5 linked regions of the Homo sapiens genome follow. The protein of the gene in region 1 purifies or fractionates together with the protein of each later gene. This does not show direct contact. Each region holds a gene or a part of one and is shown in the gene's direction. Other genes may lie near its edges.

The links.
Region 2: the proteins of CPAP (region 1) and DYNLRB1 purify together in Homo sapiens (affinity purification with mass spectrometry; one large-scale study listed by BioGRID and IntAct). This does not show direct contact.
Region 3: the proteins of CPAP (region 1) and PHLDB3 purify together in Homo sapiens (affinity purification with mass spectrometry; one large-scale study listed by BioGRID and IntAct). This does not show direct contact.
Region 4: the proteins of CPAP (region 1) and NAB1 purify together in Homo sapiens (affinity purification with mass spectrometry; one large-scale study listed by BioGRID and IntAct). This does not show direct contact.
Region 5: the proteins of CPAP (region 1) and CRTC3 purify together in Homo sapiens (affinity purification with mass spectrometry; one large-scale study listed by BioGRID and IntAct). This does not show direct contact.

Annotation. Positions count from the first base shown.
Region 1 is NC_000013.11:24,909,238-24,912,866, reverse strand, and holds part of CPAP (centrosomal P4.1-associated protein), read left to right. Parts: coding exon 1-285; intron 286-797; coding exon 798-921; intron 922-2,780; coding exon 2,781-3,077; intron 3,078-3,629. UniProt on the Homo sapiens protein: Plays an important role in cell division and centrosome function by participating in centriole duplication. Inhibits microtubule nucleation from the centrosome. Involved in the regulation of slow processive growth of centriolar microtubules.
Region 2 is NC_000020.11:34,533,399-34,537,027, forward strand, and holds part of DYNLRB1 (dynein light chain roadblock-type 1), read left to right. Parts: intron 1-125; exon of another isoform or gene 126-207; intron 208-1,207; exon of another isoform or gene 1,208-1,229; coding exon 1,230-1,397; coding exon of another isoform or gene 1,398-1,516; exon of another isoform or gene 1,517-2,189; intron 2,190-3,629. UniProt on the Homo sapiens protein: Acts as one of several non-catalytic accessory components of the cytoplasmic dynein 1 complex that are thought to be involved in linking dynein to cargos and to adapter proteins that regulate dynein function.
Region 3 is NC_000019.10:43,484,235-43,487,863, reverse strand, and holds part of PHLDB3 (pleckstrin homology-like domain family B member 3), read left to right. Parts: intron 1-740; coding exon 741-840; intron 841-993; coding exon 994-1,084; intron 1,085-1,167; coding exon 1,168-1,255; intron 1,256-1,541; coding exon 1,542-1,598; intron 1,599-1,703; coding exon of another isoform or gene 1,704-1,850; exon of another isoform or gene 1,851-2,318; intron 2,319-3,629.
Region 4 is NC_000002.12:190,647,748-190,651,971, forward strand, and holds the start of NAB1 (NGFI-A-binding protein 1), read left to right. Parts: upstream 1-1,335; 5' UTR 1,336-1,613; exon of another isoform or gene 1,614-2,098; 5' UTR 2,099-2,235; intron 2,236-2,246; exon of another isoform or gene 2,247-4,224. UniProt on the Homo sapiens protein: Acts as a transcriptional repressor for zinc finger transcription factors EGR1 and EGR2.
Region 5 is NC_000015.10:90,627,347-90,630,975, forward strand, and holds part of CRTC3 (CREB-regulated transcription coactivator 3), read left to right. Parts: intron 1-1,887; coding exon 1,888-2,186; intron 2,187-3,629. UniProt on the Homo sapiens protein: Transcriptional coactivator for CREB1 which activates transcription through both consensus and variant cAMP response element (CRE) sites.

The DNA of each region.
Region 1 (3,629 bases):
TTTCCTATTAAAGGCACACATTTTTCTGATAGCTTCAGCTTTATAAATGAAGAAGATTCACTTCTTGAAGAACAGAAGTTGGAGTCAAACAACCCTTACAAACCACAGTCAGATAAATCTGAAACCCATACAGCCTTTCCTTGCATTAAAAAGGGACCACAGGTAGCGGCATGTCACAGTGCTCCTGGACACCAGGAAGAAAACAAAAATGACTTCATCCCAGATCTTGCGAGTGAATTCAAAGAAGGGGCTTATAAAGACCCACTTTTTAAAAAACTTGAACAGGTACAATAGGATTTGGCCTACTGTGAATTTATGTCATTGCAGGTTTCTGTTTATGTAATAAAGTCATTTGTTCTAGGTCTTCTTGTTTTTTCCCCTTCACTCTGAAATCCTCAGAATACCAGATTTTGCCCTTTGTCTAATGTGAAACATTTAAGTGTGTTTAATTAGCACTTATAATAACTTTAAGTTGTTACCTCATTTGGCGAAAAGTAAGAAATGGTTGATCAAGTATTAGGGGAAAAAATTGGATGATGTACTGATGCCCATCCTATTTTAACAATCAAAGGATTTATATGACTGTTTCGGTTTCTTAGTTGAGATAGTTGATAAGATTTCCTTCGTAAGGATATGAGTTTTAGATTTTCGGTGGCTGATTTAGTTACCTAGGGGTCCCTGTCTAAAACTTCTTACCAGGAAAGATAGGAGGAGGGAGATGGGAGGAATTAAGGGAACGAGGTGTCCATGAAGAATTGTAAAGTTGATTTAATAAAGTTAATTTTGTATTTAAAAAGCTGAAAGAAGTACAACAGAAGAAGCAGGAACAATTGAAGAGGCAACAGTTGGAGCAACTACAGAGACTCATGGAAGAACAAGAGAAGCTGCTCACCATGGTGTCTGGGCAGTGCACACTTCCAGGTATGCTTTGCCTACACAGGGCCTCAGTATAATGCACATTTCTTACCTGTAGTTGTTTGACACGTTATTTCTATCGTTCCTGTATCATGTGTTGTGAACTCCAGTTTCTTTAAAGGCTAGCCCGATAAATGTGAAATGGTAGAGTTGTAATACAACTGGAACAAGAAGGAGCTGCCGCATTCTGGTGTGCGCATGCCCTGCTTTAAGGCATTGATGTTTATTCATTAAAAAAAAAAAAAAAATGAGCTGGGTGTGGTGGTCCATGCCTGCAGTCCTAGCTACTCTGGAGACTGAGGTGGGAGGATTGCTTGAGCCCAGGAATTTGAGGCTGCAGCAGTGAGCTATAATGGCACCACTGCATTCCAGCCGGGCAACAGAGTGAGACCCTGTCCCCCCAAAAAAGGTCCAATAGAAGAAAAGTCAGATTTGGCCTAGAGCTGCTGCTGGTATCCAACCCCTGCCTGATGAATGAAAACTGTTGGGTGTCATGAAGGTAAATACATGTAGGAGCCACTCTGTTCAGCTGAAGAACCATACCAAAGATATTTTCTGTGGTAGGAGATGACAGTATTCTGTTGTGTGACCCATCAGTTAACGGAAAGCGTCACGTGCCAATCAGGAAAGAAAACTGGAAATGTGACCTGGAGCAGTGGTTTGAAAGTTTCTTGACCACACTCTGTAGTAGTAAAAATGTTTAAAATCGTGACTCATAATGACAAAGCAATTTCATGTCATCAGTCCTTATTGGTGTTCCTGGCATGTAGTGAGGACATTTTCTGTCTTGTTTATTCTAGTTCTATATCATTTTAAAAAATGCTACATCCGATAATAAAATTATTATAGATTGTGTCCCATAGTTTGAAAAAAACTGAGGTTGGAGCCATGTGTTTGCTTCTTTTAAGAAATATACTTTACTGACCCAGGAAAGCACCTGTTCTGCTCAGAGATTATGCTGGGCATTGAGAATACAAGGAAAAAAAGACTTGGCAAGTGAGTGAGGCTGGGTGCAGGGGTCAGGTGGGGTGTGGTCATGAGAAATTGTAGCACATAAACAATGGTTTAGGGAATTTGGATGTTTATCTTAGAGAATATAGAAAACATTTGTGTGCCTTAAAATAGTTGAATGGCTTAGGGTTTCTTTATGGAATACATACAAAGAATAATCAAGATCACTTAAATAACAGCTGTGATACTTTTAAAGGTAGAACCGCACTATGACAGAATGACAGGGAAGCTGATTTCAAAGTTATTTACATAAGAACTAGCCTCATGCAGTCATGGAGCAGTTTGCTTTGGAGCAGTAGTTTTCAAATATTTTGGTCTCAGGATCCCTTAGGATTCTTAAATATTTGAGAGCCCCAAAGAACTTTTGTTATATGGGCTGTATTTACCAATAACTTACTGCATTAGAAATTTAAACAGGCTAGACATAGTGGCTCACACCTGTAATCCCAGTACTTTGGGAGGCCAAGGCCGGCAGATCACCTGAGGTCCGGAGTTCAAGACCAGCCTGGCCAACATGGTGAAACCCTATCTGTTCTAAAAATATAAAAAATTAGCTGGGCGTGGTGGCACACGCCTGTAATCCCAGCTACTCAGGAGGCTGAGGCACGAGAATCACTTGAACCCAAGAGGTGGAGGTTGCAGTGAGCTGAGATCGCACCACTGCACTTCAGCCTTGGCGACAGAGCGAGACTGTCTCAAACAATCAATGGTTTTGTTAAACACCATTTCCTAATAAAGGGAAAAAATACTGTTGTCACTGTGGAGAAGTCTTTGTGGGGTGGGGGTCACTACTGGGGATAAAAGAGAAAATGTTGAAGGAAGTCATCAGCTTTGTTGCATTTCTTAATTGTAAGGTTTGAGTTTACTGCCTGATGATCAGAGCCAGAAGCACAGGTCTCCAGGAAATACCACCACTGGAGAGAGAGCCACATGCTGCTTCCCATCATATGTCTACCCGGACCCAACCCAGGAAGAAACATACCCGTCCAACATTTTATCCCATGAGCAAAGCAACTTCTGTAGAACTGCTCATGGAGATTTTGTCTTAACTTCAAAACGTGCGTCTCCTAATTTATTTTCTGAGGCACAGTATCAAGAAGCACCTGTGGAAAAAAATAATTTAAAAGAAGAAAACCGTAACCATCCTACAGGTGAGCTACTTATGTTTCTCTCTTCTGTGCTTATAGTGTTACTAAGTTGTCCTAAGATGAAGCCTTTCCATGTTTTTTCTTTAAAAATTATTTTTTCAGAGATGGAGTGTTGCCGTGTTGCTCAGGCTGGACTCAATCTCCTGGGCACAAGTAATCTTCCCCCATCAGCCTCTCAGGTAGCTGGGACTATAGGCACGTGCTACCCTGCCAGCTCTTTCTGTATGGTTATTTTTTTTTGTCCCCTGTGGCGTGTTTTTTTTTTTTGAGACAGTCTCGCTCTGTCACCCAGGCTGGAGAGCAGTGGCACAATCTCAGCTCACTGCAACCTCTGCCTCTCGGGTTCAAGTGATTCTTGTGTCTCAGCCTCCCAAGTAGCTGGGATTACAGGTATGTGCCACCATGCCCAGATAATTTTGTGTATTTTTAGTAGAGATGGGGTTTCAACATGTTGGCCAGGCTAGTCTCAAACTCCTGGCCTCAAGTGATCTGCCTGCCTTGGCCTCCCAAAGTACTGGGATTGCAGATCTGAGCTACTGCACCCAACCATAATGC
Region 2 (3,629 bases), on another chromosome or scaffold:
ACATGCTTTAACTTGGCACGGCCATGTGGACAGTGTGTTTATAGCTGCTACCCAAGCCTCCCTTGGGTGGAAATCATGATGGTTATGTCCCAGCACAAGCTGACTTTTTCTCTTCTACTTTTTAGTGTGTAGAAGTTTGTGGCCGGGCGCGGTGGCTCACGCCTGTAATCCCAGCACTTTGGAAGGCCGAGGCGGGTGGATCATGAGGTCAGGAGTTCAAGACTAGCCTGGCCAGTATGGTGAAACCCCGTCTCTTCTAAAAATACAAAAATCAGCCAGGTGTGGTGGTGCGCGTCTGTAGTTCCAGCTACACAGGAGGCTGAGGCAGGAGAATCACTTGAACCTGGGAGGCGGAGGTTGCAATGAGCCGAGGTTGCACCATTGCACTCCAGCCTGGGCGACACAGCAAGACTCCATCTCAAAAAATAAAATAAAATAAATAAAAGAAGTTTGTAAGGCAGGGTGCGATGGCTCACGTCTGTAATCCCAGCACTTTGGGAGGCCGAGGTGGGCGGATCACCTGAGGTCAGGAGTTCAAGACCAGCCTGGCAAACATGGTGAAACCTTGTCTCTACTAAAAATACAAAAATTAGCTAGCTGGGTGCTGTGGCACGCGCCTGTAATCCCAGATACTTGGGAAACTGAGGCAGGAGAATCACTTGAACCCGGGAGGCAGAGGTTGCAGTGAGCCACTGCACTCCAGCCTGGGCAACAGAGCAAGACTCCGTCTCAAAAAAAAGAAATTTGTAAAAGCGCTTCCTGGTTTCAATTCTAAGCACTATGAATGAGAGTCTCTCTTTTTTTGGACAAAAAAATAAAAACCTGATTTTGTTAGTTTTTTAAATCTGTGTCCCTGCATGAATCAGAGCTAGTCTCTCCTTTTACTGCTGGGAACCAATCAGCCCTGGGAAAGGAACCCAGGAGTGAGCCAGCAGGCCTGCATGTGAATCCTGGCCCCACTGTGTGACTACAGACAGGTCGCCTCATCACTCAGAGCTCCTGTTGCCTCATGGGCGAATGAGATGGTGTTGCCACCCACAGAGTAGTTCTAGGGCATGGCACTGGCATGCTTCGGGTGCTCAGCACCATGCCTGTCACATAGCAAGCCCTCTGCGGATGGTGGCATTGACTGAGAACTGCTATTCCAGTTCTCCCCAATTAGGGGTGTGGGTGGGAGCTCGGCAGAAGGGGCTCCACATCCTCTCAGTCTCCGTCTGCTCTCCCCTCAGGCATTCCCATCAAGAGCACCATGGACAACCCCACCACCACCCAGTATGCCAGCCTCATGCACAGCTTCATCCTGAAGGCACGGAGCACCGTGCGTGACATCGACCCCCAGAACGATCTCACCTTCCTTCGAATTCGCTCCAAGAAAAATGAAATTATGGTTGCACCAGGTAAGGGGTCTTCTACCTCCCCATGTAGGAACAGACCTCATGGCACATTCTCTGTGGCTCATCAGGAGTCCTGGCACAGTGGTGTCTCCAGAGGATCCAAGCAGGGCCCGAGGAGTTGAAGGAATTGGGTTGTTGCCTCACTGCCTAGCCAGCCTCCAGCTGGTGTCCCATAGCAGATCCTCCCAGGGACCGGCCCCAGAGGGTAACCCCAGTCTCCTGAGATAGACAGACACGTGAGCATCATGTGTGTCTCCCCTTCCTTGATAGGAGAAAACTCAAAGGCATTTGGGACATAGAGGAGGGTGTGGCCAGGCCTGTCTGGGGCTGTCTGCAAAAGCTTCCCAGAAGAGGGGACACTGGAGCTGAATCTTAAGGGCACCAGGAAGCAGTGTGAGCAAGGCGGAGGGGCGGAAAGCCACGTTTGGAAGAATATTCAGTGATTCTTCTCCAAAATGTAAAGCAAAAGTACTGTATCATTTTATCCTTGAAAACATGTTCTCTGCCCACTTGTAAAGGCCAGGCCTGTCTTTAGGCCCCTTACAGCCAGCTTTTCCTGCCGCACGGGAGCAGATTGCTTTGTTTCCTTTACGCGAGGTGCTTGCCTTGCATTTGGGGGCTCTGTGGTGCAACCAAGGCCTGTGTTTAGTCCTTAGGATCATTCTCAGGGTGAGGAGATGCTCATTCTGGGAGGAGCCCACAAGGATGGGAGCACAGGAGCGAGCAACAGAGCCACATCTCCTGCCCGGCTCCCTCGCTCTCACTCATGGACTGGGGTGGCAGGCAGAGCCTCCAGGGCCGTCTTTGCATTATTACTTTTTTCTCACTCTGCTTTTTCTTGGCTGAGCCACATAGTTGAGTGTGCGTGCGTCACGTATGCGCGTGATGGTGCACTCCCGCTGCAGTGCCGCTTATCTAGGGCATCAGGATGTGAGTGGGGAGGAGTGGGAGGTGAGGCTTTGGTCCAGTTTAGAAGGGGCCACAAACACCTAACTCAGTTGCATGGACTTGATCTTGCAAGCAGAGGTTTTTAGGGCAGGAGGTGATAGGATTATGATTAGGACCTGGATAAAGGAAGGCAGTGGGGGGTCTGGGGACACTGAATGCTCTGGACTGGCAACACAGAGGGCAAGGAGGCTGGCCACAGAGTTCTGAGGTAATTTGATGGGAGGTCAGCCACTCCCTGCAGCAGACCAGCATAGGTTCTGTCACCAGGCCTGGAAGGATGGGCAGGAAAGAACTATAGAGCCAGTCACAGCAGCCCACAGGCTCCCTGGGACACTCCCTAGAGGGGTGGGGACAGAGCAGTTCAGTCACAGAGAAGAACATAAGAATAACTCCAGAGTCTATTATTCCAAAATCACGCTTCTGTGTGTAATGCCTGATCCATCGGGGAGAAAAGACTGCAGGAGGCACAGAATCTGTTTTCCCAGCTTTGCTTCCCACAAGCATGACCCTGGGCAAGTCGCAGAACACCTGCAAATCCACATCTGTAAAGTGTCGAGTAGGGGACTGTGCTGTGCTGATGTCCTGAGCCACCCTGCCTGGTTGAGTGTGTTGACCTGGGTTGGGGGAAAAAGCCTTGGAATCAGATTTAAACTGCAGTTCCTCCCAGGTTGTCATGTTGTGTGACTGCAGAGGACAAAGCTTCACTCCCCAAAAGTCGGGCCGGGATGGAGCGCAGTGGCTCACGCCTGTAATCCCAGCACTTTGGGAGGCCAAGGCAGGCGGATCACAAGGTCAGGAGTTCAAGACCAGCCTGACCAACATGGTGAAACCCCGTCTCTACTAAAAATAAAAAAATTAGCTGGGCATGGTGGCGCACACCTGTAATCCCAGGTACTTGGGACGCTGAGGCAGGAGAATCACTTGAACCCAGGAGGCGGAGCTTGCAGTGAGCTGAGATCGCGCCACTGCACTCCAGCCTGGGAAACAGAGTGAGACTCTGTCTCAAAAAAAAAAAAAAAAAAAAAGTTGGGCCGGGAACAGTCCCCCTGCTCACCCTGTGCACAGCAGACCTTGTGCTCCCCAGTGGCCCACTGGGAGTTCAGGGTATGGGGGAAGGGAGCAAATTACTTGGTCTCCAAATCAGACAAATTCTCCACAGACAGTGTCCCTTGGCATAAAGCTCCTGAGAATGTCTCCTCTGGAAGGACAGTGTCATCTGAAAGCTCCTGGCCATTCAGGTCTCAACTTGGCAGCGGCAGCGTCTCCAATTTGGCCCTGAAGACCCAC
Region 3 (3,629 bases), on another chromosome or scaffold:
GATTTTTAGAAAGAGTTTTATTGAGGCATAATTCACGTCCCTATACAATTCATTCATTTAAAATGTACAGTTCTGTGTCTTTTAGTATATTCAACGTTGCGCAAACATTACCACAATCAATTTTAGAACATTTTCATTATCCCCCAAAAGAAACCCTGCATCCCTTAGCCTCTCGGTTCCCCGATCTACCCCAGTCCGGGCAACCACAATTCTACTTCCCATTTCTATGTTAATTTGCCTGTTCCGGACATTTCTTTTTTTCTTTTCTGTGTTTTTTTTTTTTTTTTTTGAGACAGAGTCTTGCTCTGTCGCCCAGGCTGGAGTACAGTGGCGCGATCTCAGCTCATTGCAATCTCCACCTCCCGGGTTCAAGCGATTCTTCTGCCTCAGCCTCCCGAGTAGCTGGGACTACAGGCGCGTGCCACCATGCCCGGCTAATTTCTGTATTTTTAGTAGAGATGGGGTTTCACCATATTGGCCAGGCTGGTGTCGAGCTCCCGGCCTCAGGTGATCCACCTGCCTTGGACTCCCAAAGTGCTGGGATTACAGGCATAAGCCACTGTGCTCAGCTTGATATTTCTTATAAACGGGATCATACCCCTGTGAGGTCCTTTCACTCAGCACATGGACAGTAGTGTTTTGATTTGTGCTGACTGGGTGGTGGCTTCACTGGGCAGTGCTCTGACTTAGGTTGGAGATCAAGCCTTTTTCCTATGCTCATGAGCCTTTTGTGTTTTCAGGGCTCCATTGGCCTCCAGAGGACTGGGAGCCTGCCCCGGAAAAGGGGGGAGAGGGGGAGCCAGAGAGGATCCCCCCGACCTCTGTCCTTCCATTGTACTGGTGAGGATCCCCCTGTTCCCCACTTCCTTCCCACATCAGCACTCATCCTGCAGCAGAGGATGGAGGAAACCCGCACCTATGCCTGCAGGGGAGAAGTGGATAGGCTCAGGCCAGGGTGTATCCAGCCCTGTAACCTGGTCCCCTCTACCCTAGAATCCCTGGAGGCCTCAGCTCTCCCGCCAGCAGTGGGGGACTCCGGCAGATACCCCCTCTACCAGCTGCTGAACTGTGGCCGTGGGAATAGGTGAGACATCAGAGAGAAGGTGGGGAGATGGAAGAAGAGGCCCAGCCACTGTAACCCACCCCGTCTGTGTTCCCTCCTCCTAGCTGTGGGGCCATCCATCCAGACATTGCCCACATGGAGCGGCTCCTGCAGCAGGCCATGGCGGAGAGGGAGCGGCTGCTCAAGGCCCGGGTGAGAGCCCAGGCCATCCTCTTCGGAACAGAAGACTGCCCCAGCCTCTCCTCCCTCAGACCTGGGAGACCCCCAACTCCACCTCCCTCAGACCCAGGGGTCCAGGCCCCCAGCCCCTCCACCCTCAGACCCAGGAGTCCAGGCCCCCAGCCCATCCTCCCTCATACCCAGGAGTCCAGGCCCCCAGTCCCTGTACCCTCAGAACAGAGAAGCTAGGACATTCTCCAGCCACCCTACCATCTTATGGGCTGGGATCCTCATTGAGTGCTTCATCCTGAATCCACAGGAAGGAACAAGAAGGGGCACGGAAGGTTCCTCAGGCCCTGCTGTTCCTGCCATCACGGTCAGTCCCACCCCCGCCCTCACGCCCACCTCTCCCTGCTCTGTTTCTCCCCCTGACCTATGCCCTTTCTTACATCTGACCCTTTCCTCTCCTCCAATTGAACAGAAAATTGTCCTGGGCTTGGCAAGGGAAAGGGAACTGCAGAGGACCAGTTCCTGTTCCCATGACCGGATGATGGTCATCTCCATGTGTGGCAGGTCCTCGGGTAACTTGCTCTACTCTGCCTCATTTTCCTCTTCTGTACATTGGTGACAATGTCAGCAGTCAGTACAGAAGGAGGACAAGTCCATGCTGGGACTTATTCCTGGCCTCAAGCAATCCTCCTGCCTCAGCCTCCCAGAGTACTGGGATTATAGCGTGAACCACCATGCCCAGTCCATGCTGGAACTTTTAAAAATCATTTAAAATTTTGTTTTTGGCTGGGTGCAGTGGCTCATGCCTGTAATCCCAGCACTTTGGGAGGCCAAGGCGGGTGGATCACCTGAGTTTGCGACCAGCCTGGCCAGCATGGTGAAACCCCATCTCTACTAAAAATACAAAAATTAGCCGGGCATGGTGGCACATGCCTGTAATCCCAGCTACTCGGGAGACTGAGGCATGAGAATCACTTGAACCCGCAGGTGGAGGTTGCAGTGAGCCGAGATTGTACCACTACACTCCAGCCTTGGCAATAAGAGCGAAAATCTGTCTCAAAAAAAAAAAAAAATCAAAACCAAAAAACTGTTTTTATTTTTATTTATTTAAAAAACTTTTTAGGCCGGGCGCAGTGGCTCACGCCTGTAATCCCAGCACTTTGGGAGGCTGAGGTGGGTGGATCATGAGGTCAGGAGTTCAAGACCAGCCTGGCCAAGATGGTGAAACCCCGTCTCTACTAAAAATACAAAAAATTAGCCGGGCATGGTGGCGGGCACCTGTAATCCCAGCTACTCAGGAGGCTGAGGCAGAGAATTGCTTGAACCTGGGAGGTGCAGGTTGCAGTGAGCCAAGATCACACCACTGCACTCCAGTCTTGGTGACAGACCAAGATTCTGTCTCAAAAAAAAAAACAAAAAACCTTTTTACGATAGAAATATTCAAGCATATGCATGAGAGAAGGAGTAGATTAATAGACCCCCAGGTGCCCACTGCGCAGCTTTAATCATTTTCAATATTGAATCTTGTACTTGCCAACTTTTTATTTATTTTATTTAACATTTTAATTTGTGTATGTACTAGGTATATATATTTTATTTTTATTTTTAATATTTTTCTTTTTTTCTCATAAGTCTTCTGCACTCCTATATTTTTAATGTATTTTATTTTTGTAGAGATAGAGTCTTGCTATGTTGTCCAGGCTGATCTCAAACTCCTGGCCTCAAACAATCCTCCCATGTCAGCCTCCAAGCTGCTAGAATTATAAGAATAATTCTAGGGCATTGGTGCCCAGCCACCAATTTTATTTTACTAATCCCATACCTACATCCCACTCTGCACTGAAATATTTTAAAGCAAAATATTGTATCCTTTCACTCAAACATCACTGTGTATCTCCAATAGATAGGCTTGTTTTTTGGGGGACAGAGTTTTACTCTTGTCGCCCAGGCTAGAGTGCAGTGATGTGATCTCAGCTCACTGGAACCTCTGCCTCCCTGGTTCAAGCGATTCTTCTACCTCAGCCTCCCGAGTAGCTGGGAGTACAGGTGCCCACCACCACACCCATTTATTTTTTTTGTTTGTTTTTAGTAGCGATGGGGTTTTGCCATGCTGTCCGGGCTGGTCTTGAACTCCTGACCTCAGGTGATCTGTGTGCCTTGGCCTCAAAAAGTGCTGGGATTAAAAGTGTAAGCCACTGTGCCTGGCCAATAAGTTTTTTTTTTTTTTTAACATAACAAAAATTCCATTGTCACATCTTATGAGATTATTAATTTCATTATATTGTAATATATAGTCCATATTCACATTTCTCTCATTGTCTCCAAAATATGTTTTTAAAAATTTATTTATTATTTTTCTTTTCCTTTTTTTTTTTTTTTTCCAAGATGGAGTCTCACT
Region 4 (4,224 bases), on another chromosome or scaffold:
CTTGTTGCCCAAGCTGGAGTGCAATGGCACGATCTTGGCTCACTGCAACCTCCGCCTCCCGGGTTCAAGCTATTCTCCCGCCTCAGCCTCCCAAGCAGCTGGGATGTCAGGCATGCGCCACCACGCCCGGCTAATTTTGTATTTTTTGTAGAGACGGGATTTCACCACGTTAGCCAGGCTGGTGTCCAACTCCGGACCTCAGGTGATCCGCCCGCCTCGGCCTCCCACAGTGCTGGCATTACAGGCGTGAGCCCTGGCCAGCCTAAGTACATTTTTGAAGGTGCTTTAATACTTTGGTTAGCAAAGTTTATGCAAACCAAAAAATTCTATATTGTGCCTTGGGAACTCTAATTTAGCACACACCAGCACTATACTAGCGCCGTAGTTTTTCTACACCATGGACACAAAAAACATTAAACAGTAAAATAAAAGGCAGATTTTCAGGAGGTTAAAAAGGTTGGAATTAAATTACCCGGCCAGCGCGACAGTTGTCAAAGCTGTACTTCGGACTCCCTGGTTCCATTCCTCCCTCCTCCTCCCGTCCCAACGCCAGAGCGGAGGTGGGGAGGGGGCAAGATGGGCGAGGCAGAGATGCTCTCCCAGCCGCCGGTTCTTCCAGCGCCGCGCACCTGCCGCCCCTTCCTCCATGCGGTCGCTGCAGCCTTCCCGCCGGACGCCTCGCCCCCCCGGGCAGGGGCGCACCTGGACCACCTGCCTCCCCGCCTCTGCCCCGAGCCTGCGGGGGCCAGGGGAGCCCGGCGCGCTGTTGTTTTTTTTTTTTTTTTTTTTTTAAAGTCAGCCTCCTAGAGGATGTTGGATTTGGCGGGTGTGCTCTTTGAAATACTATATCGGGAACCTCACACATAATTTTTTTTTTTTAATTGCAAACCTTCCCAGTTCACTCCGCAGCTGGAGAGCAGGCCGGAGGCGGCGTTCCCCACCCGTCTCCCTCTTTGTCGTCCCCTCCCCGCGCCCGGAGCGGGACTCGCGGGAGCCGCCCACTCCCGGCGCCCACTTGGTTCCTCCCAGCTGCCGTGTGAATGGGCCGTCCTCCGGATTCCGCGGAGGGGGCGGCGGGAAGGGGCCGAGCCCCGGGCCCAGCGGCCGCCCCCGCCCCCGCCCGGCGGCGGCCCACGCCGGGATCTGCGTCACTCGGCCGCGCGTGGGCGGGAGCCGGAGCGGCGAATGTAGCAAGAGCGGAATCTCCCAATGTGACAGCGCGGGGTGGGGGAGTGGAGGCGGCGGAGGCGGGCGGGGGAGGGGGAGGAGGGTGTAGCGCGCGCGGGGAAGGCAGGGGAGGGGAGGGCAAGGCGCGGCGGGGGAGGCGCTGCCGCCGCCGCCGCCGCCCGCGCGCCGCAGCCTGGAGGAGCCGCCGCCGCCGCCGCGGCCAAGCGAGCGCCGTCGGGGCGGGTGGGCGGGAAGAAGCGGCGGGCCCGAGGTGGGGGGGAGCAGAGAGAGCGCGCCCACCACCTTCCCTTCCCCCCTCGATGGGAGCGGGGGCGTCCCGGCTCCTGCAGCCGCCAGAGGAGGGAGAGCCGGGGGCCGTCGCTTCGGAGTTGGGGCTGAGCAGTCCTCGGGGAGAGCGCGCCAAGACCGCTGCAGCCGCTGGCTGAGTACGTACCGGAGCGGACGGTCGCCACTCCCGGTCCGCCAAGTGCGGGACACTTTCGCGGCTGAGCGGCCACGGGCGAACTTGGGGCGGCTGAGTCGCGGGGCCACGCGGGCACTTTGGGGGCGGTGTCCGGGGGAAGCGGGCTCCGCGCGGCCGCCGCCGGAAGGAGAGGGCGGCCCCGGGCTCGTGTGGGCGATTCCCGGAGACATTCTGTGTGCCAGGGCGGCGGGGAGCGCGGCCCTGACTCGTGCATTTTCCCTCCGAGAAAGGTTGGGGTGCCGAGTCCGTTTTGCTAACGGGGCTGGGGGCGTCACACGGCGCTCTGGGGGTGTGCGATGTGGGTTGTGCGCGCCGGCCCCAGAGTTTTGCAGCCACCTTCGTCAGGGCAGTCTTTTTGTTTGTTTACTTTATAAAAGTGCTGCACTTACCGTCTCGATTTTCTTCTTGGGTATCTTCCCTTTCCGAATGTAGTTTTCTTTTTAAAAGCGGAAGGAGAGTTTTACATGGAAGTGGCTTACAGAAACTTGGCGCTGAGGTGCAGGGAAGCCAGAAACTCTTTGTGTCTCTAAGGCCGATGAGGAATTTGGAAACACATGTGGGACATACAAGCGTTGGATATAGAGGTGTGTGTGTGTGACCTTATCATGGAGAAACACTGAAAATACTATCAAATCTTTGTGGTCTGCAAACTCAGAGCTTCCAAAGCTTGAGATAGGAAATGACACTTCTGTTAAGCCTGAATGTTGCAGGATCTCGGGGAAAGGGATAGTTGAGATGGAATATACATTTGTCGATTCTGCAGACCAAGCTTTGCAGCGAGTGATCGGGAGGAATCGTAGACTTGCATGTACTTACACCTCGCTCCCTGAGATTCGGGAGGCACGGAAAATTTTGGGATGGCTGTTAATTTAAAATTTCATCTGAAAGAGTCGATTTGGAGTAACTTGTCACTACCAGTTGGTTTGCCAGTGACGTGTCTGCCAACTCAAAGAGTGCAAAGATCAGAAGCTGAAAGAGGAATTCTCAGATCTTGTTTAAAAATATTTTGGCAGTTTTAATAGATAATATGAGATTGCATAGGAACAGAGGAGCCGAATTTAAAATAGATTAGTCACGTAGGAAATGCTTAGCTGTTGTAAAAGTGTTCACGCAATGACTTACCTTCCTAGGTTTTCACTTTTTTGAAAATTTTTCCCTGAACAACATACTGAATTATGATATTTCATAATTTGTGTGTGGGTTATAAGAAGTATGAGGAGAGAGGATGCATAGGATTTGCTTTTTCTGTTTTGGGTGGAGATTGAGCTTTTCCTGAAGACCTGAAAGAGCTGCTTCTGATCTAATCTGAGTGCCAGTAAAAGTGGCTCTTAGATGAAAGGCTTTTTCTTCTCCATATTGGTGTCATTTAAGACATACAATATTATCTTTAAGTTTAAAAGATTATATTTTTTCATCGGTATTAACATACAAATAAGGGTTTTCTTGAGTCTTTGTAGATGACTGGCTAGGTCAGCCTTTTTTATCCCTGATTTGGGTATTAGATATTGGAACATTAGGTCTTGAAAGAAAATTTCAAGGAACTTCTGGAAGAAGCTTTCTTGTTTCAATTTTATTATTTTTACCATTTTGCACTAAAGTTAATATGCCATTTCGAGATTAAAAATGTTTTTTTCCCGACTCTGATGGTCTCTTGTTACTTGTGAAGGTATCAATAATAATGTAATAATGACAACATTGAGGAACTGTAGATTTTTATTTTATTCTGCCTGCTAATTATGGATGTAATTCAAATGACAGAAATTCTTAGGATTACTATGGTTGTTACAAGGACATTTAGTAAGCTTATATGTCTAGTAAATAACTTGATCTATCTAAAAAATACTTTATCTCATCTTATTTCAAAATTATTCAGTTGAGTAATCTCTTTTTTGTAAGTGGCAAATAACATCCACTGTCGTATGAGAAAGTTAATAGATGTTTATTCTCCTTGTTAGAGAAACACTGAAAGCATTAGGTATTTTCATCACGGTATAGCTAAGAACCTATTGGTTTATTAAAGATTTTGGGGGTTTGCACTGTGGATGCTTCTTTGAAAGAAGAAATTATAAACTGGGGGACATCTTTGATGAATTTGTTAATGAACTTTAAATATTTAAAGTTCAGGTTGGATGAAAACAGAAGTATGTCAGTTTCTAAAGAAAATATAGACATGGGGTCTCGCTGTGTTGCCCAGGTTGGCCTCAAACTCCTGGGGCCAAGGGATTATCCCACCTTAGCCTCCGAAGTTATGTCAGGTTTCATTGGCCTAAGACTTAGGACTCATTTATTCCATTATAACAAGCCTGGAGCTGTTTTTTGTGAGTGCTATTTATGTACATTTTTGGAAATGAAATCTTTGTAAAATTTACCTTTAAATGCAAAGCTGTGTTTTGGATGGAAGTGACCATTTTATAATATGTTTTGAACAGTTTAAGATCATGCTAATGTATAATCAACCCGTCTATGCATATTTCATTGTGGAATTTGCTAAACATATTATAGCATAAATAATACCCACTTGAGCATAATAGAAGATTGCTAGACCCTTTGCTTTGGATTTATTTTTATCTTAC
Region 5 (3,629 bases), on another chromosome or scaffold:
CAGGAGAAACTCTCGAAACCTTTATGCCCAGATTCAGAGTCTGGGCAATTCACCTTTTGGGTGAATCCTCAATGTATGAAGATATCTAGGGTCCCAGAAGTAAAGCAGCATCAGCACATAGCTCCTTTGGGTCTCAGGGAAGCTGGCATTTTCCAGTACAGCCTTTGACACTTTGCTTCAAGCTGAAGATCTTATGTTTAGTCACTGGTTGTCTTCTCAAAAAAGCACTATTTTATCCAGAACATGTCAGAACCAATGTCAGTTTCTGTATTTTCTTTTTTTTTTTTCTTTTTGAGACAGACTCTTGCTGTGTCGCCCAGGCTGGAGTGCAGTGGCGCCATCTCGGCTCACTGCAAGCTCTGCCTCCTAGGTTCACGCCATTCTCCTGCCTCAGCCTCCCCAGTAGCTGGGACTACAGGCACCTGCCACCACGCCCGGCTAATTTTTTTAGTAGAGACGGGGTTTCACCTTGTTAGCCAGGATGGTCTTGATCTCCTGACCTCATGATCCACCCGCCTCGGCCTCCCAAAGTGCCGGGATTACAGGCGTGAGCCACGCCCAGCCGGCAAAATTATTTTTAAGAATTTTAGGCTGGGTGCGGTGGCTCACTCCTGTAATCCCGGCACTTTGGGAGGCCGAGGCGAGTGGATCACGAGGTCAGGAGATCGAGACCATCCTGGCTAACACGGTGAAACCCCATCTCTACTAAAATTACAAAAAATTAACCAGGCGTGGCGGCACATGCCTGTAGTCCCAGCTACTTGGGAGGCTGAGGCAGGAGAATGGCGTGAACCCGGGAGACGGAGCTTGCAGTGAGCTGAGATCATGTCACTGCACTCCAGCCTGGGTGACAGAGCGAGACTCTGTCTCAAAAAAAATAATAATAATAATAGTGATAATAATAATTTTGCCAGCTGCTGGATTTTTGTCATTTCTTCCTTTTCGTAACTTTTATCAAACACTTAAATTTTTTGTCAACACGAAACAACACATAGTTCTGCTTACCCCACCTGCTGGTACAAGAAAGATGGGCTGAAGGTTAAAACGTAGGTATTGCCAGTTGAGATACACACAGCAGCAGCAGCCGAATAATTGATTCACTGGGCGAACCTGCTCCATGCCAGGCCCTGTGCCAGGTGCTGAGGATCCAGCAGGGCATAGGACAGGATCCCCAGTTTCTGGGAGCTCATGCCCTAGCAGCCTATGCTGCAAAGATCTCTCTCCCAAATTTCCTTGCTCATGATCAAATTCACCCCTGTCCCCCAAATAAAGCACCAGCAAAAACTTCCTTTTCCCTGAGTTGGTATAGACTGTGATGAACAATTTCCTGGGAACCAGAAAATCAAAGAGGGACCCTGGGGTGGGAGATACAGGGAAGTGTCCCTTCCTGTGACTCCCTAGTGTGCTAAGGGTAATTAAAGACCACCAAGACAGCTCCCCAAGGGCCATGACTCGCCGTGGAAGGATGTTCTCCAAAGGTAGCAGGGGATGCAGGCAGTGTGCTTGGGACAGAGACCTTCCGGGGCTCTAAACAGAATTTGTTGTACAGCCCTAGGGTCCTTTCCCTGGGTCTGGGCCGAGCACCTGGAATATTTGCCTCTGTTACCCCGGTTTACCTAGTTTTGCTCACCTAGGGGTTGTTGACGTGATCTCCCTCCTCATGGGAAAACATCGTTGTCATCTTTGTGGCCCCATCTCTGTTAGTGCAGGGGCATCTTTTCCTTGCCATTGGTGCATCGGATGCAGTCCCTGTAGGAGAGCTGTCCAGGAGCTCCTTTACCTACAGAATCATCATCGCATGTGACAGTAGACAGTTTTCTTTCATTTTTGGAATACAAAAGATTTGGTCTGAAATTATAAGTAACTTGTGAATTTGTTGTCTTCCAGGTCTCCAGAGTTCTCGGAGTAACCCCTCCATCCAAGCCACGCTCAATAAGACTGTGCTTTCCTCTTCCTTAAATAACCACCCACAGACATCTGTTCCCAACGCATCTGCTCTTCACCCTTCGCTCCGTCTGTTTTCCCTTAGCAACCCATCTCTTTCCACCACAAACCTGAGCGGCCCGTCTCGGCGTCGGCAGCCTCCCGTCAGCCCTCTCACGCTTTCTCCTGGCCCTGAAGCACATCAAGGTTTCAGCAGACAGCTGTCTTCAACCAGCCCACTGGCCCCATATCCTACCTCCCAGGTAAACACACACAGACAGACCAACCACTACAGTGAAACAGACTGCAAGATATAGGAAGTGCATTCCTCCTCTTTACTATTTTGGGTTACACTCATTATTACACCAAGCACCCATGAGGTCTCAAGTGCAGTCTGTTCGCTCTTATATGTGAAATCAGAGCAGAAGTGTCAATAATGCAGAATGAATTCATGATTTTCTTTTCTTTTTTTGAGAAAGGGTCTCACTCTGTTGCCCAGGCTGGAGTGCAGTGGCACAATCGCGGCTCACTGCAGCCTCACCTCCCGGGCTCAAGCGATCTTCTCACCTTAGTCTTCGGAGTAGCTGGGACCACAGGCATGCACCACCATACCTGACTAATTTTTTGATTTTTTTGTAGAGACAAGTTCTCGATATGTTGCCCAAGCTGGTCTCAAATGCCTGGACTCAAGCCATCCTCCCAGCGTGGCCTCCCAAAGTGCTGGGATTACAGGCATGAGCCACTGCACCCAGCCTAATTAATGATTTTTTATTATAATAATAGCAGATTTGCTGTGTTGATTACTCTTTAAGCAAATGTTGAACAATCTGTAGTCACTAACTCACAAACTTGGGGTTGAGAGGAACGGTAGGATATAGAGAATGCCATCCAGGTAAGTCTAAGGCAACTGAGGGAAACCAGGTTAGGATTTCAAAGTTGGCATGGAAAATCAGTCATTGACTCTCTAAGTACATTAAGCCATAGGGGAAAGCCAAAGAAAACATTTAATACCTTCCTGAAGCTTTGATAATGAATTAGACCTCTTCCCTAATTGTCTACAGATTTGAGAAACAATACTTTTATTGTTCATGAAATGCTAAGTATGTTGAGGATTATATCTCTTATAAGGATGAAAAGAAGTCTGTTGAGAAAGAGGCACATTTAAAAGTCACCCACCCATACAAAAAATGGAAAAATTAGCTGGGTGTGGTGGCACACGCCTGTAGTCCCAGCTACTCCAGAGCGGAGGTGGGAGGCTCACTTGAGCCCAGGAGGTCGAGGCTGCAGTGAGCCAAGATAGCCTCACTGCACTGTAGCCTGGCAACAGAGTGAGACCCTGTCTCAAAAGAAAAGAAAAGCCCATTATAGAAACACAGGGGTTGAAACATCCTATAAATTCTAAACTCAGAGGTGGTTCTCCTTATACCATAATCATCGAGGAATGTGTTTTCAACCTTTTGTCACATCCTCTGTCTATTACAGCATCATTTTTTTTTTTTTTTTTTTTTTTTTTTTTTTTGAGACGGAGTCTCGCTCTGTCGCCCAGGTCGGACTGCGGACTGCAGTGGCGCAATCTCGGCTCACTGCAAGCTCCGCTTCCCGGGTTCACGCCATTCTCCTGCCTCAGCCTCCCGAGTAGCTGGGACTACAGGCGCCCGCCACCGTGCCCGGCTAATTTTTTGTATTTTTAGTAGAGACGGGGTTTC